Homo sapiens: one gene and its partners. Changing the gene in region 1 together with any one later gene gives a genetic interaction. Each region holds a gene or a part of one and is shown in the gene's direction. Other genes may lie near its edges.

Region 1 (3,500 bases):
ACAAGCTTGGGATATGGGGAGTATGTGATTAAAATAACTTTATATCATCCACTGACTTATGGACTCATGAAATAGATTTGCACAGGAACAGCTTGTGAAATAGGGACTCTAACTGTAGCAATTTCCTAGGGAGCAAGCCATCAGTGATGAGGATGAAGAGGAAAGTTTTTCCTGGCTGGAAGAGATGGGTGTGCAAGATAAAATTAAAAAGCCAGACATACTTTCTATCAAGCTGTATCCTTTCAGTTGTTGTTAACTAGAATTAATTTTCATTGAATGACGTTAGTGAGAAGTTTAACATTGGCAGTTTTATATGATTATAATCTTAAATTATCTTCAGGTCATATTAAAACTAATTCTCCATTGTAATACTAAATAAGCCCCTAAGTATCAACAAATGGTGAACTATTAAACCTTTTTTAATCAAAACGTTCAATTATGATTGTGGGAGAATAGGTGTGTTTTGACTAGAGAAGAAATTAGGTTTAGGTGTCAGTTTGTAGCAAATTCAGATTGTTAACATTTTGATTGAAACATATGCCTTATGATTCGGTAAAGAGAGGTAGCAAGAGGATTTCCATTTCATTATGGAGAAAAGGAGTCTCAGGTGATTCAGAATCAAGATAACTGCTTTCCACATTAGGTGAGATTTGCTTTTGCAATTTCCTTGATTGTCATCTTCAGGCGTAAAGAGAAACATGAAGTACAAATGGATCACAGACCTGAATCTGTTGTGTTGGTAAAAGGAATCAACACCTTTACATTGCTCAATTTTTTGATTAACTCTAAGAGTTTAGTTGCTACCTCAGGTCCACAGGCAGGACTTCCTCCAACCCTCTTGTCCCCTGTTGCTTTCCGAGGTGCCACAATGCAAATGCTTAAGGTAATAAAAGTCTGCATAACCTAGCTTTTAAGAAGTACTTTACTTTGATAGGATAAATTCTTGATTTAAAAAAAAACCTCCTAGCATTTTTACTTGGTACATATTTTCATTTTGCTTTCCTCCCATTAAAAAAAGAAACAAAAATTATATAAGACAGTTATATCAAAGAAATTATGTGGAAATATATAAATTATATGAAATCCTTTTTATTTTCTTTTCGAGATGGAGTCTTGCGCTGCTATCCAGGCTGAATGGAGTGCAGTGGCGTGATCTCAACTCACTGCAACCCCTGCCTCCCGGGTTCAAGTGATTCTCGCGCCATGCCTCAGCCTCTTGAGTAGCTGGGATTACAAGCACACACCACCAAGCCTAGCTATTTTTTTTGTTTTTTTTTTTCTTGTTTGTTTTTGTTTGTTTGTTTTAAGAGGGAGTCCCACTCTGTCACCGGCTGCAGTGCAGTGGTGCGATCTCGGCTCACTGCAGCCTCCAACTCTGGGGTTCAAGCGATTCTTCTGCCTCAGCCTCTCGAGTAGCTGGGGTTACAGGTGGGCACCACCACGCCCAGCTAATTTTTGTATTTTTAGTATAGACGGAGTTTCACCATATTGGCCAGGCTGGTCTTGAACTCCTGGCCTCTTTTTAAATTATACGAACATTTATTTTCTTTTTTTGGTTGGGGAGACAGGGTCTTGCTGTAGTGCAGTGGCACAGCTCACTGCAGCCTCAACCATGTGGGCTCAAGTGAAATTCCTGCCTCAGCCTCTCGAGTATCGGACCACAGGACTGCCATGCCCTGCTTTTTTTTTTTTTTTTTTTTTTTTTTTTTTTTTTTTTTTTTGAGGTGGAATCTCACTCTCACCCAGGCGTGTGCCACCACGCCTGGCTAATTTTTTTTTTTTTTTGTATTTTTTGTAGAGACGGGTTTTCACCATGTTGGTCAGGGTGGTCTCGAACTCCTGACCTCATGATCTGCCCTCGGCCTCCCAAAGTGCTGGGATTACAGGCATGAGCCACTGCACCTGGCCGCCCTGCATTCATTCATTCATTCATTCATTCATTCATCTATCTATTTAGAGACGGAGTCTTGCTCTGTCACCCAGGCTGGAGAGCAGTGGCTCAATTTTGGCTCACTGCAAACTCTGCCTAACGGGCTCAAGCGATTCTTCAACCTCTGCCTCTGGGGCTCAGGTGATTCTTCTGCCTTAGCTTCCCAAGTAGCTGGGACTATAGGCTCACACCACCATGCCTGGCTAATTTTTTTGTATTTTTAATAGAGACGAGGTTTCACCATGTTGGCCAGGCTGGTCTTGAACTCCTGACCTCAAGTGATCTGCCCACCTTGGCCTCCCAAAGTGCTGGGATTATAATCATAATAAATTATATATGTAAATACAAAATACATGCTAAATCTTAGCAATAAAATTGAATGGATTTTAAATTTTTGTTTTTCCAATAGTCTGCATTGACAGTGTATTACTAAATCAGATAAAATACTATATGAAAAAATGGTATTCTCTGGAATATACTTCACCTGAAAATCTCTTAATATGGAAAGGTTGCTGAAAATTTACTAAGTATTTGTACTCACATAACATTGTTTAGATGTCTTGGGAAATAGTTTTATTCCATAATTGTTAAAAGAGAGGAAACCCCAAATGGAAATATATTGAACATATTTTTGGCTAGGCAAAAGGTTGAGAGATGATCTTAATTTTCCTTTTCTTTACATTTTCATGAAGGCACGGAGTGTGAATGTGAAGACACAAGCTCTTTCTGGATACAGAGACCAATTTAGTTTGGAGATTACAGGTCCTATCATGCCTCATTCTCTGCATTCACTGACCATGCTGCTCAAATCTTCACAGAGTGGATCTTTCTCTGCAGTACTGTATCCACACGAGCCAACTGCTGTATTTAACATCTGCCTGCAAATGGACAAAGTACTTGATATGGTAAGTAGACACCTATGAGCAGACTGTTTTAGTTGTAGTTTCCTCAAACTAGCTGGAGGGAAATTGAGTCATTTATGCTGAGTCACTATTGTGTTTCAAGTAATTAAACTGTTACTTAATTATGAATTACTAGAGGAAGGAATAATGTCTGTAAGTTGTTTATGTGAGGTAGCTTTCATGAATTCAGTCCAAGTACAATTTTTTTTTTTTTTTGAGATGGAGTCTTGCTGTTGCCCGGGCTGGAGTGCAGCGGCGCGAGTCTCGGCTCACTGCAGCCTTAGCCTCCTGGGTTCAAACAGTTCTCCTGCCTCAGCCTCCCAAGTAGCTGAGATTACAGGCATGTGCCACCACATCTGGCTATTTTTTGTATCTTTATTAGAGACGGGGGTTTCACCATGTTGGCCAGGCTGGTCTTGAACTCCTGACTTCAGGTGATCTGCCCACCTTGGCCTCCCAAAATGTTGGGATTACAGGCTTGAGCCACGGCACCCGGCCTCAGTCCAAATAGTTTTAACAGTGACTGAAGAACTTCCCATTCCAAAAAGGGGCAGCTTTTTCATTTCCTCTTGCATCCAAAACTCAATAGTACCTGATTCCTTTATAGTTTAAGGAAACAATTCACTGTGGGTATTTAACCATATTTGCCTTTAATTTTGAACATACTT
Region 2 (3,128 bases), on another chromosome or scaffold:
AAAAAAAAAAAGAAAAGAAAAACCAAAAGGTTAAAATTGTCAACTTTACATTTTTACCACAATAAAAAAAATGTTTAAGTGTTCGTTTGAGACAAGAATATTAAACAGGTAAATACTGCCATTTACTGTAGAAAAACTGCCATTTTACTGTAGAAACAATAAGATTGCATCTTTCTAAAAAGTTTAAAATTAGCATGTCTGTAAACCACCAATGTGCCTTATTTTTGTTAAAAGTTTTTAAGGTAATTTTGCATGTCAGTGCCTTAATAAACAACTATTCGAATATACTTTGTTCTTGACTTAAAGGTGCACTGCAAGATCTTTTTCTCATAAACACTGTAGTATAGATTTCCAGTAATCTACAGAAAGTGTTAGATTCCACAATACCTTCTCAGACAAATCCTACCTAACATTTGGTGGCTCTCCTGTCAAATAATTGTCTTAATTTATTTCTCCTAGTGACAGTCCTTTGAGTTAAAAAAGCTGAATATGATAATTTTTTTCAATAAGTAAATTATTAAAAGTATAAACAGTCTTCATTTATACTACTATGCAGTTCATGGAATAACCATTTTCCTTAGAGTTCAATTTTTTGTGTGTCTTTTTAAGGTAGTAAAAAAATGGCTAGGATTTGTAATAGAGGGCTTAATCCATAAGGGAAAACATGTTTTATTTCAAATATATGAATTATTTTTTGTTGAATATGAATCTTAAAATACTTCATTTGCCCTGTCTTAAAAGACTTAATTTTTCCTCCCTCTAAATTCTTGAAGGAAGGTTCCTAAGTGTGCCCCTCATCTTTGTTTTGCAGGAAGAAATTCAAAAGAAAAGAACCCGCCGAGCAGTCAAATTCCAGAGGGCCATTACTGGTGCATCTCTTGCTGATATAATGGCCAAGAGGAATCAGAAACCTGAAGTTAGAAAGGCTCAACGAGAACAAGCTATCAGGTGAGGAATGCTTTCATTATGAGCATTTTACCTATTCGGATGGATTTTAGGTTTGGGTCTTCAGTAATTAAAGTTACCATATAGATTAATATATGTTAAGCTGATTTGGTGGTTAATGAAAATTATTGACAAATTCTTTGGATTTAGCCTACAAATAAATGGAGGTAGGGAAGGAAGGAATATGGTCATTGTACTTGTCCAGTACAGTCTAACTCTAATAATAAGTTGTACCACTAAGGAGTAAAGTGCTTTTGCCTTAAGTTACTTTTACCCCACAGGGCTGCTAAGGAAGCAAAAAAGGCTAAGCAAGCATCTAAAAAGACTGCAATGGCTGCTGCTAAGGTAATTATGGGGTTTCTTTACTTTCTTGAACAATACAACAGGAAAATTTTCTTTTTTTGAGACGGAGTCTTGCTCTGTTGCCCAGGATGGGGTGCAGTGGCGTGATCTGATCTCAGCTCACTGCAACCTCTGCCTCCCGGGTTCAAGTGATACTCCTGCCTCAGCCTCCCGAGTAGCTGGGAGTACAGGTGCGCGCCATCACGCCCGGCTGATTTTTTGTTTGTTTGTTTGTTTGTTTAAGTAGAGACAGGGTTTCACCATGTCGGACAGGCTGGTCTTGAACTCTTGACCTCAGGTGATCTGCCCACCTCAGCCTCCCAAAGTGCTGGGGTTACAAGTGTGAGCCACTGAGCCCGGCTGGAAAATTTATTTTCAGTCTAAATTGTGATAAATGAAAGTTTCACAGTTTTAAGGTATTGAATGCAAGGCTCAATTGGAAATGATGTTTGTAACCAATTACTTGGCCAATGGTTCAGGTCTCCAGAGAGGTGGTCCTCTCCATAAGCCAAAGCATGTGTTACTGTTAGGAACTGGGAAAAATAAAGGTTGGCCTTTTTGTTTGTTTGTTTGTTTGTTTTTTTCCCCCTTCAACACAGGGCCTCACTCTGTAGCCCAGCTGGAGTGCAGTGGCACAATCACGGCTTGCTGCAGCCTCAACCTCCTGGGCTCAAGTGATCCTCCTGACTCAGGCCCCTAAGTAGCTGGGACTACAGGCAAGCACTACCAAACCCAGCTAATAGGTATTTTAGTTGAGATGGTTTCGCCATGTTGCCCAGGCTGGCCTCAAACTCCTGAGCTCAAGCGATCCACCTGCTTTAGCACCCCGAAGTGTTGGGATGAGCCCCTGCACCATGCCTGGTTTTGAAAGTTACTATGGTTATCTACATTGATAACATTGAGAAAAGCTGAGTAAACACTGTACTGTTACTGAGATCTTTTCTGTGAGTTTCTGTTAGGATGCATTTCAGGATCCTACACTGCACTTGGTTGTGTCTCATTTCATCCAGTCTGTGAGGGTATCTTAGTCTTTGTCTTTCATTGTAAAGATGGGCTTTAAATATTTAAGGGTAGTCACATTAAAAGATTGGCATTAGGAATGCAGTTAAATTACTAAGAAAGTGATCTAAGCTACATAAACAATCTGGATGTGAGAGATGGGTAATAATAGGGTAACAAAAGTTTTGTGGAGTAATATTGTGTTATCTTTTTACAGGCACCTACAAAGGCAGCACCTAAGCAAAAGATTGTGAAGCCTGTGAAAGTTTCAGCTCCCCGAGTTGGTGGAAAACGCTAAACTGGCAGATTAGATTTTTAAATAAAGATTGGATTATAACTCTAGGTTGTGCTGGATTTTTTTTTTTTCTTGTAACAGGCATGTTGGACTTTACACGGTCATAGGTGACCTAACAAAGAATGTAAGACGTAGGTATTTTATTAAAAAGTCTATTGCTCAGGAATAATGCATCCTATAAAGTTTTAACTTCTTTGTTGGAGAGAGGTTAAGCAAAATAATGTAAGATGGGTAAGGTCAGATGCTATCTTGGCTTGGCTGGGGTGTATAGGGCACATTAGAAAAACTTAATTGCCTTAACTTTTTGGTTACATTGCTGTAAGTATTAGGATGTTGCTGGTGCAGTGGCTCACGCCTGTAATCCCAGCATTTGTAAGACCAAAGCCAGGTGATCACTTGAGCTCAGGAGTTCAAGACCAGCCTGAGTGACATGGCGAAACCCCATCTCTACAAAAACATTCAAAAGTGAGCCAGGCATGGTGGAGAGTGTATATAGTCCCAGCTGGGAAGCTGGGAGTGTGGAAGGTGGAAGGATCGCTTGAGCCAG
Region 3 (3,500 bases), on another chromosome or scaffold:
GAAGGCTGTTCACTGCTGTTTCTTTGACTCATGAATCCATGGATTTGACATGGAACAGTGATGTCGGTGATAACTAACTTAGTAAATTTGATTAACTTAGAGAGTTGTAGTCTAGTTCATGGATGTCAGTAGAGAAGCCGTGCTGCTCCGTGGAGGAGGTTGACGCTCATGTCTTCTCCGTTGGTGTCTGCGTATCCCTGGTTCAATTCTGGATGTGGTCTCTCTGTTGGCCCCTGGGAGTGGAGCCTTTGGGAGGTGGCCTCCTGCTGCTCCAGGCCCCTCTGCCTGCAACCCTTTCACCTTAAATGTCCTCTTGATTTGACAGATTAATGACAAGAAAGTGCAGAAAGAAAGGTTAAAATATTTTCTTTGTACCATATAACAAGGCTACCTTTTCCTTGACTGTCTGAAAATTTATTTTAATATTTTCTTAATTTCTTTTACTCACTTTATTTCTTTTTTTAGTTTTTGTTATTTTGAGACAGGGTCTGTCTCTGGCACTCGGGCTGGAGTGCAGTGGTGCCATTACAACTAGCTGTAGCCGTGACCTCCTGGGCTCAAGTGATCCTCCAATCTCAGCCTCCCAAGTAGCTGGGGCTACAGGTGTGCACCACCATGCCCAGCTAATTTTTAAAAATTTTTTGTTGAGATGGGAGCTCACTACATTGCCCAGGCTGGTCTCAGACTCCTGGACCCAAGCAATCCTCCCACCTCAGCCTCCAAAGTGCTGGCATTATAGGCATGAGCCACTCTGCCCAGCCTATTTTTATTTTTTTTAAGCGTTTATTATTTAAAACACTTACACCTGCCCTAACACTTGTTATTAGCTGTGTGAATTTTATAAACTCTGTTACTTCTTATATATTTCAAGTGAGTTCTGGATTTTTCTCTTTTCTCTTGGAAACTTGATTTTCAGAAACCTGTGCCCAGCAGCTCTGGTGGAGATGCCCACGTTCCCCATGGCTCCCAGGTCATTAGGAAGCTGGTCATGGTAAGAACCACAGCCCATCCGGGTTGCCAGCGGGTGGGTGCTTCCCTGCATGGCTGTGTCTGCCACTGATGTTCGAATGTTCCTCCGTCCGCCTGTCTGTGGGGCTGGCGTGTCCCTAGAGTTGCGAGTTCAGTGCATCCTTTGTCACTGCCACCCTGAGCCTTTTCTCTCTCAGACAGTACTGAGTGAAGGCCCTGGTGGGGGTGTGTCCTCCTGTGCCGAGGAGGGCCCTGGTATGGGGTGCGTCTTCCCTGTGCCCAGGAAGAGGGCTACTGCTCTGGGTGGTCTCCTCCCGGGCAACTCACCCTTCTTTGAACGTAGCTCCCGAGCTGAGTCGATGCCAGTGGAGCGGTCTGACAGATCCTTTCCGCGACTCAGCCTGGTGCTGATGCTGTTTGGTTTGGTTCCTTGTGGAGTAGAGTGATTTAACACATTCCTATGATATAATATGATATGAAATATAAATATGTAACTGTGATATAAACGGCGTAGAATGAAATGTTTTTAATTGAACAGTATACGTTAAGGCATCACGTCAAGATTGGAGGACTTCATGTCAGTTTTACAGTGAGAAATTGTGTGGAGTGACGGAACTGCAGTGCCTTGCTCTCGCGCCCCAGCACCTGGCTGCAGAGTGTCACGGAGATGGGACCCCTGAGATGGCTCCAGTCCCAGTGCCGTGGGCAGTGCGTGGGAGCACAGCCGCCTCTGACCCCTGAGTGGGTCCAGTCCCAGTGCCGTGGGCGGTGCATGGCAGCACAGCCGCCTCTGACCATACCGTGTCCCTCAGGAACCCACCTTCAAGCCCTGGCAGATGAAGACTCACTTCCTGATGCCCTTCCCGGTGAATTACGTGGGTGAATGCATCCGAACTGTCCCCTACACGGACCCAGATCATGCCAGGTAGGAGGGTGTAGGTCGGGACCTCTCAGGCCTGAGCCTTACGGAAGAGCTTGTCAAGGCTGTTCGAGTTCACAGGGCGTGTTTTAGCACAGGAAAAGTCTGTGCTGACTCTGAGTGTTGGACCTGGGGCTGTGTGAGTCTACGAGTGCTCCTCTTTAACCAGCAGTCTTTGTGAACAGAGACCCAGTTTTAGAGCCAGTCATTTTTGTAAACAATTTCTATTATTGAGGAGTCCTATGAACAATACAGATACCTATGACCTTAAACACAGACTGCTTTCAACATGCCCCATGTACTCACCTCATCTCTAGGTAAAAATCGAATGAATTTAGGCTGAGATTTCTGATAAACATGGTAGGTTAAGCCTTCATGAGGACAGATGCGTGAATGACAGCAAAGGCAGATCAAGACACGAAGCTACAAGGGAAAGAGTGGGAGGTGACCCGGAGAGCCATGGGGGCTGCAGGAGAACCTCGTGAGCCAGACTCTGGGTGGGTGGGGGGTGCCTGACCTGGGGCCACAGAGGGACAGGGCAGTGGGGAGAAACCAGGTGGTCCTGCAGAGCCCTGCAGATGGCAGGGCTGGAGGCCGCCTCACAGTCCCTCTAAGGAGTTTGTCTCCCCTGTCTCCCCACCAAGTCAGAAGCTCAGGGAAGGAGGCCCTGGGTTGAGCAGCCGAAGCCACAGCCAAGAGTCAGGGTCAGGCCTGTTCCCAAAGTGGCGTGGGGCGAGGGAGTTTGCAGCCTACAGACTGGCCCTCCAGCCCCTTCTTCCGAACTCTGGCTGCCCCTTGGCTGTGTTCATCCCATCTGGGGAAACTGGCCAGACCAGGACAGACTCACAGACGTGCACCTTTGGGGACCCGTCAGTTGGGTGTGTATGACACAGATATGTGCAAACATGTTATATCCCGGAAATTCACTTCCTGTGTCCTTGTCCCAGGCAGCTACCCCCATGAGGGACTAAACCAAGGAGTGAGCCTGGTAGAGAGGGGGAAGGCAGGCTTAGGCCTGGGCAGCCTGTCCTGATTGGAGAAGGAGCCGGGCCTCCGAGGTGCACGTGTGTCACAGAGGGTCACAGATGGGGAGGTGTGTAGGAGGCAGGCGGGAAGAAACGTGGGGCTGCAGTGGGGGCCCAGAAAGAGCTGGCTGTAGAAGTATGTGGTCAGCTGTTTTGTTCATTTATTTCCATATTTGTAGAAGATGAACAGATCTGTCTGCTATGCCGGCAGAAGAGTGGTGTCTGTTTCCACTATCCAACAGGAAAATGTAGACAGAAAACACTAAAAATGTGGAGGTTCCCCCTGGGCAGTGGGATTCCAGATCTTTTTTTCCTTGTGTTTTGTATTTTATAATCTTTCAAAAGTGAGCATGTTTTTAATATACAAGTAATAGAAATTTCTCAGGAAGGATAATGTGTGGACGGATGGAACGCCATCCCTGCCGGTGCTGGTGGAGACTCCGTCCCCCAGGGTCTGACTCCAGCCTCGCTAGTCCCGGCTGACGGCGCCCCAGCCACCCGAGTGGCGCTGGGTTTCTCCTGGAGGACCCACACGAGATGGTCGTGACTTCTCCCACCACAGCCCCTGGGAACACGCCCACTCCTTC
Region 4 (3,500 bases), on another chromosome or scaffold:
TAATCACATTATATAGAATTACATGTTCAAAGTTATATATGTTTTTTGGAAATCACATTCTAATTGGTTGGTTGGTTGGTGTATTTATTTATTTATTTTTGAGGCAGAGTCTCGCTCTGTGGCCCAGGCTGGAGTGCAGTGACATGAACATAGCTCACTCTAGGCCCAACCTCCTGGGCTCAAGCGATCCTCCCACCTCAGTCTCCTGAGTTGTTGGGATGTTGGGACTGCAGGTGTGCCCCACCACGCCCAGCTAATTTTTAATTTTTTTTGTAGAGACCGGGTGTTGCCATGTTGCCCAGACTGGTCTCCAAACTCCTGGGCTCAAGCGGTCCTTCCACCTTAGCCTCCCAAAGGGCTGGTATTACGGGTGTGAGCCACTGCGTCCGGCCTGGAGGACTCCTGTTTGAAGTTGTGTCAGAAAAAGAGGAAGAGTCTTCTGTTAGAAACAGAAAGCCCTTCTCTTGGAGATAAGCCTTGTAAAAAGCTACAGGCCAGGGAGAATTTCAGGGTCAGATTCAGGAGTTCCTTAAATGAGTTTGGTTTTCCTCCTGTCTTTCACATACATAGGGGATGAAATAATACCCAGGTCATCAAAGTCTGTGAAACCAACTGCAACAGGACCTCTGATTCTTCCCACTCAGAGACCCACAAGTGCCACTCTGTTTTTGGACAACGGTCAACAAGCTTCACCGCCAAGTGCCTGATTTGTCAAATGAGAGCTTTGTCGTTTCTTCAGATGCTGACCAGTATCTGAATTCAGTATCTCTGAATTACAGGAGAGGAGAAAATAGATGAAATACTGCTGTCAGTACCACGGTTGCTGGCTCTTGTTTAGCTTCTGAGTCAGCTGGGGCACCCCTGCCATCTGCTCTCAGTGTGGGGCTGGGTGTCCCTGCACCGTGGAACAAGGGCAGGTCCTGTCTTCCCGGAAGGCCCAGCACGGGTGAAGATTTGGGGGCAGATTTATACCAACATACACTGGTCTATACATTGGATATGTGCAGGTTCCCATTCGTTTCCTGGGGAGCCATGTGTCCCTGAGGCCAGAGAGTCTCCTCACCCAGCTCAGACTGAATGCTTTTGTTTTTGTTTCAGGGCATTTGCACGCCAAAGGCAAAGAAGAAAAAATGTCCAAATCATTAAAGAACTACATTACTATTAAGGTAACGTGCTTTTTGTATTGTATCTCTGAGGTGCCGATAGCTTGTGGAACCCATCTTAAAGGCTTCTGTGTCATTTGAGAACCACGGAATCCCATTCCCAGTGCCCTCTGGCCCCTTTCTTATGACGAGACCTGCCTCACCTCCCTCCCACTTTAAGTGGCTCTCCGCCTAATCGCGCCCTCAGCTGTGCGCCTCCCGCAGGTTTCCGCAGTCCCTTTCTTGGTGGAGCTTCCCTTTCTCTTTCCGTGTTTCAAGGCCGGCGCCCTCTTCCTTGCCTTTTCCTTTTATAATTGTTGTCTCCCTCTTGGTGCATCTGCTGACTTCCTTCCCGCCCTCACCCACCACCTCTTACTGGTGTGGCTTTGGGATTTGTTTAGGTTTTGCTGTTTGCCCTTAATAGGCTCAGAGCTGGCTGGATCCTTAACCAACCTGAAAAATGGCATCATGCTATGCTGCTGACACATGGAATGTGAATTTTCGTGTGAATGGAAAACAGGCACACCCACGGAGGGCTCTGGCTGACATAGTTTGAACTCCTCCTTTGTCTTCTGGCCTGTCTTTAAAGCCAGATTTAATTTAATTGCAAAATAAATGGAGAAGAATAGTATCCAGATCTCACCGCCTAAATAGCAAACCAGTGAAAGCTGTACCCATCAGATTTAGGATACACCAACAGGGACTGCTCCTCACAAAATAATTTGTATATAGTTTCCTTAAGTAGAATTTTTCCGTTTTATCCTAGGCAAAATTTCAAACCGATAGAAAAGTTGAAAGAAACATCACTATGGCTCCACCCAGATTCAGTAGTTGTGATGATTTTGCTGTATTTGCTGTGTAGGATCTTTTTCGCCTACCCAGCTTAGATTCTCCCACCGGGGAGCCTCAATTAAATTGGTAAATTAGACTCTGGCCAAAGACAGATTAGCAAGAGAAAAACAAAGAGAAATGTGTTAGAGCGTGCACGGCACACGTGGAGGTGGAGCACAGGGTTGCATGACACAGAGGAAGGTTGGAGCCCGGGGCCACGGGGTTGCATGACGCAGAGGGGGTCCAAACCCAGCCACGGGGTTGCATGGTATGCAGTGGGGTCGGAGCCTGGCCATGGGGTTGCATGACGCAGAAGGGGGTCCGAAGCCGGCCATGGGGTTGCATGACGCAGAGGGGGGTCGGAGCCCGGCCACGGGGTTGCATGACGCAGAGAGAGGTCCGAACCCGGCCGTGGGGTTGCATGACGCAGAGGGGGTCCGAACCCGACCATGGGGTTGCATGGTGCAGAGTGGGTCGGAGCCCGGCCACTGCAGGGACCTTGCTTTATTGAGCTTCACTTGACCGCACTTCGCAGATGCTGTGTCTTTACAGATTGAAGGTTTGTGGCAGCCCTGCACCAAGCAAATCTGTTGGCACAATTTTGCCAACAGCATGTTCTCACTTCCTTTCTGTGTGTCATGTTTGGGTAATTCTTGCAATATTTCAAAGTTTCTCATTATTAAATCTGTTATGGTGATCTGTGGTCAGTGATCTCTGATGTTACTGTTGTAATTGTTTTCGGGCTCCATGAACCACATCCATGGAAGACAGAACTTAGTATGTGTTGTGCATGTTCTGACTGCTCCACCAACTGTCCATTCCTTTAAATCTGCCCCTCCTTGGACTCCCCTATTCCCTGAGACACAACATTATTGAAATTAGGCCAGTTACTAGCCCTACAGTGGCCTCTAAGTGTTCAAGTGAAAGGAAGAGTCACACATCTCTCACTTTCCATCAAAAGCTAGAAATGCTTAAGCTTAATGAGGAGGGTATGTCAAAAGCTGAGACAGGCTGAAAGCTAAGCCTCTTGCACCAAATATTTAGCTAAGTTGTGAATGCAAAGGAAAAGTTCTTGAAGGAAATCAAAAGTGCTATTCCAGCGAACACACGAATGATTAGCAAGCAAAACAACCTTATTGCTGATAATGGAGAAAGTTTGAGTGGTCTGGATAGAGAAGATCAAACCAGCCACAACATTCCTGTAAGCCACAGCCTAATCTGGAACAAGGCCCTAACTTTCTTCAGTTCTATGAAGGCTGAGAGAGATGAGAAAGCTGCAAAGAAAAGTTGGAAGCTAGCAGGGGTTGGTTTGTGAGGTTGAAGGAAAGAAGACCTAGCTAAAATAAGTGATGAAGGTGGCCACACTAAACAGCAGATCTTTCGAATGTAGATGAAATTGCCTTCTATTGGAAGAAGATGCTGTCTAGGACTTTTGTAGCTAGAAAGAAGTCAATGGCTGGCTTCAGAGCTTCAAAGGACAGGCTGACTATTGTTAGGGGCTAATGTAGCTGGTGACTTTAAGTTGAA

The links. Genes that interact genetically often act in the same process or in processes that back each other up.
Region 2: changes in DONSON (region 1) and RPL24 together harm fitness more than expected from each alone (negative genetic interaction), as found in Homo sapiens cells (one large-scale study listed by BioGRID).
Region 3: changes in DONSON (region 1) and PITRM1 together harm fitness less than expected from each alone (positive genetic interaction), as found in Homo sapiens cells (one large-scale study listed by BioGRID).
Region 4: changes in DONSON (region 1) and CARS2 together harm fitness more than expected from each alone (negative genetic interaction), as found in Homo sapiens cells (one large-scale study listed by BioGRID).

The regions. Positions count from the first base shown.
Region 1 is NC_000021.9:33,578,685-33,582,184, reverse strand, and holds part of DONSON (protein downstream neighbor of Son), read left to right. Parts: coding exon 1-20; intron 21-129; coding exon 130-234; intron 235-684; coding exon 685-883; intron 884-2,622; coding exon 2,623-2,835; intron 2,836-3,500. UniProt on the Homo sapiens protein: Replisome component that maintains genome stability by protecting stalled or damaged replication forks.
Region 2 is NC_000003.12:101,680,591-101,683,718, reverse strand, and holds the end of RPL24 (large ribosomal subunit protein eL24), read left to right. Parts: intron 1-811; coding exon 812-948; intron 949-1,226; coding exon 1,227-1,290; intron 1,291-2,503; coding exon 2,504-2,584; 3' UTR 2,585-2,628; downstream 2,629-3,128. UniProt on the Homo sapiens protein: Component of the large ribosomal subunit. The ribosome is a large ribonucleoprotein complex responsible for the synthesis of proteins in the cell.
Region 3 is NC_000010.11:3,141,783-3,145,282, reverse strand, and holds part of PITRM1 (presequence protease, mitochondrial isoform 2 precursor), read left to right. Parts: exon of another isoform or gene 1-312; intron 313-916; coding exon 917-991; intron 992-1,296; exon of another isoform or gene 1,297-1,427; intron 1,428-1,507; exon of another isoform or gene 1,508-1,781; coding exon 1,782-1,894; intron 1,895-2,194; exon of another isoform or gene 2,195-2,311; intron 2,312-3,500. UniProt on the Homo sapiens protein: Metalloendopeptidase of the mitochondrial matrix that functions in peptide cleavage and degradation rather than in protein processing. Has an ATP-independent activity. Specifically cleaves peptides in the range of 5 to 65 residues.
Region 4 is NC_000013.11:110,661,117-110,664,616, reverse strand, and holds part of CARS2 (probable cysteine--tRNA ligase, mitochondrial), read left to right. Parts: intron 1-570; coding exon of another isoform or gene 571-707; exon of another isoform or gene 708-1,098; coding exon 1,099-1,166; intron 1,167-3,500. UniProt on the Homo sapiens protein: Mitochondrial cysteine-specific aminoacyl-tRNA synthetase that catalyzes the ATP-dependent ligation of cysteine to tRNA(Cys). In addition to its role as an aminoacyl-tRNA synthetase, has also cysteine persulfide synthase activity.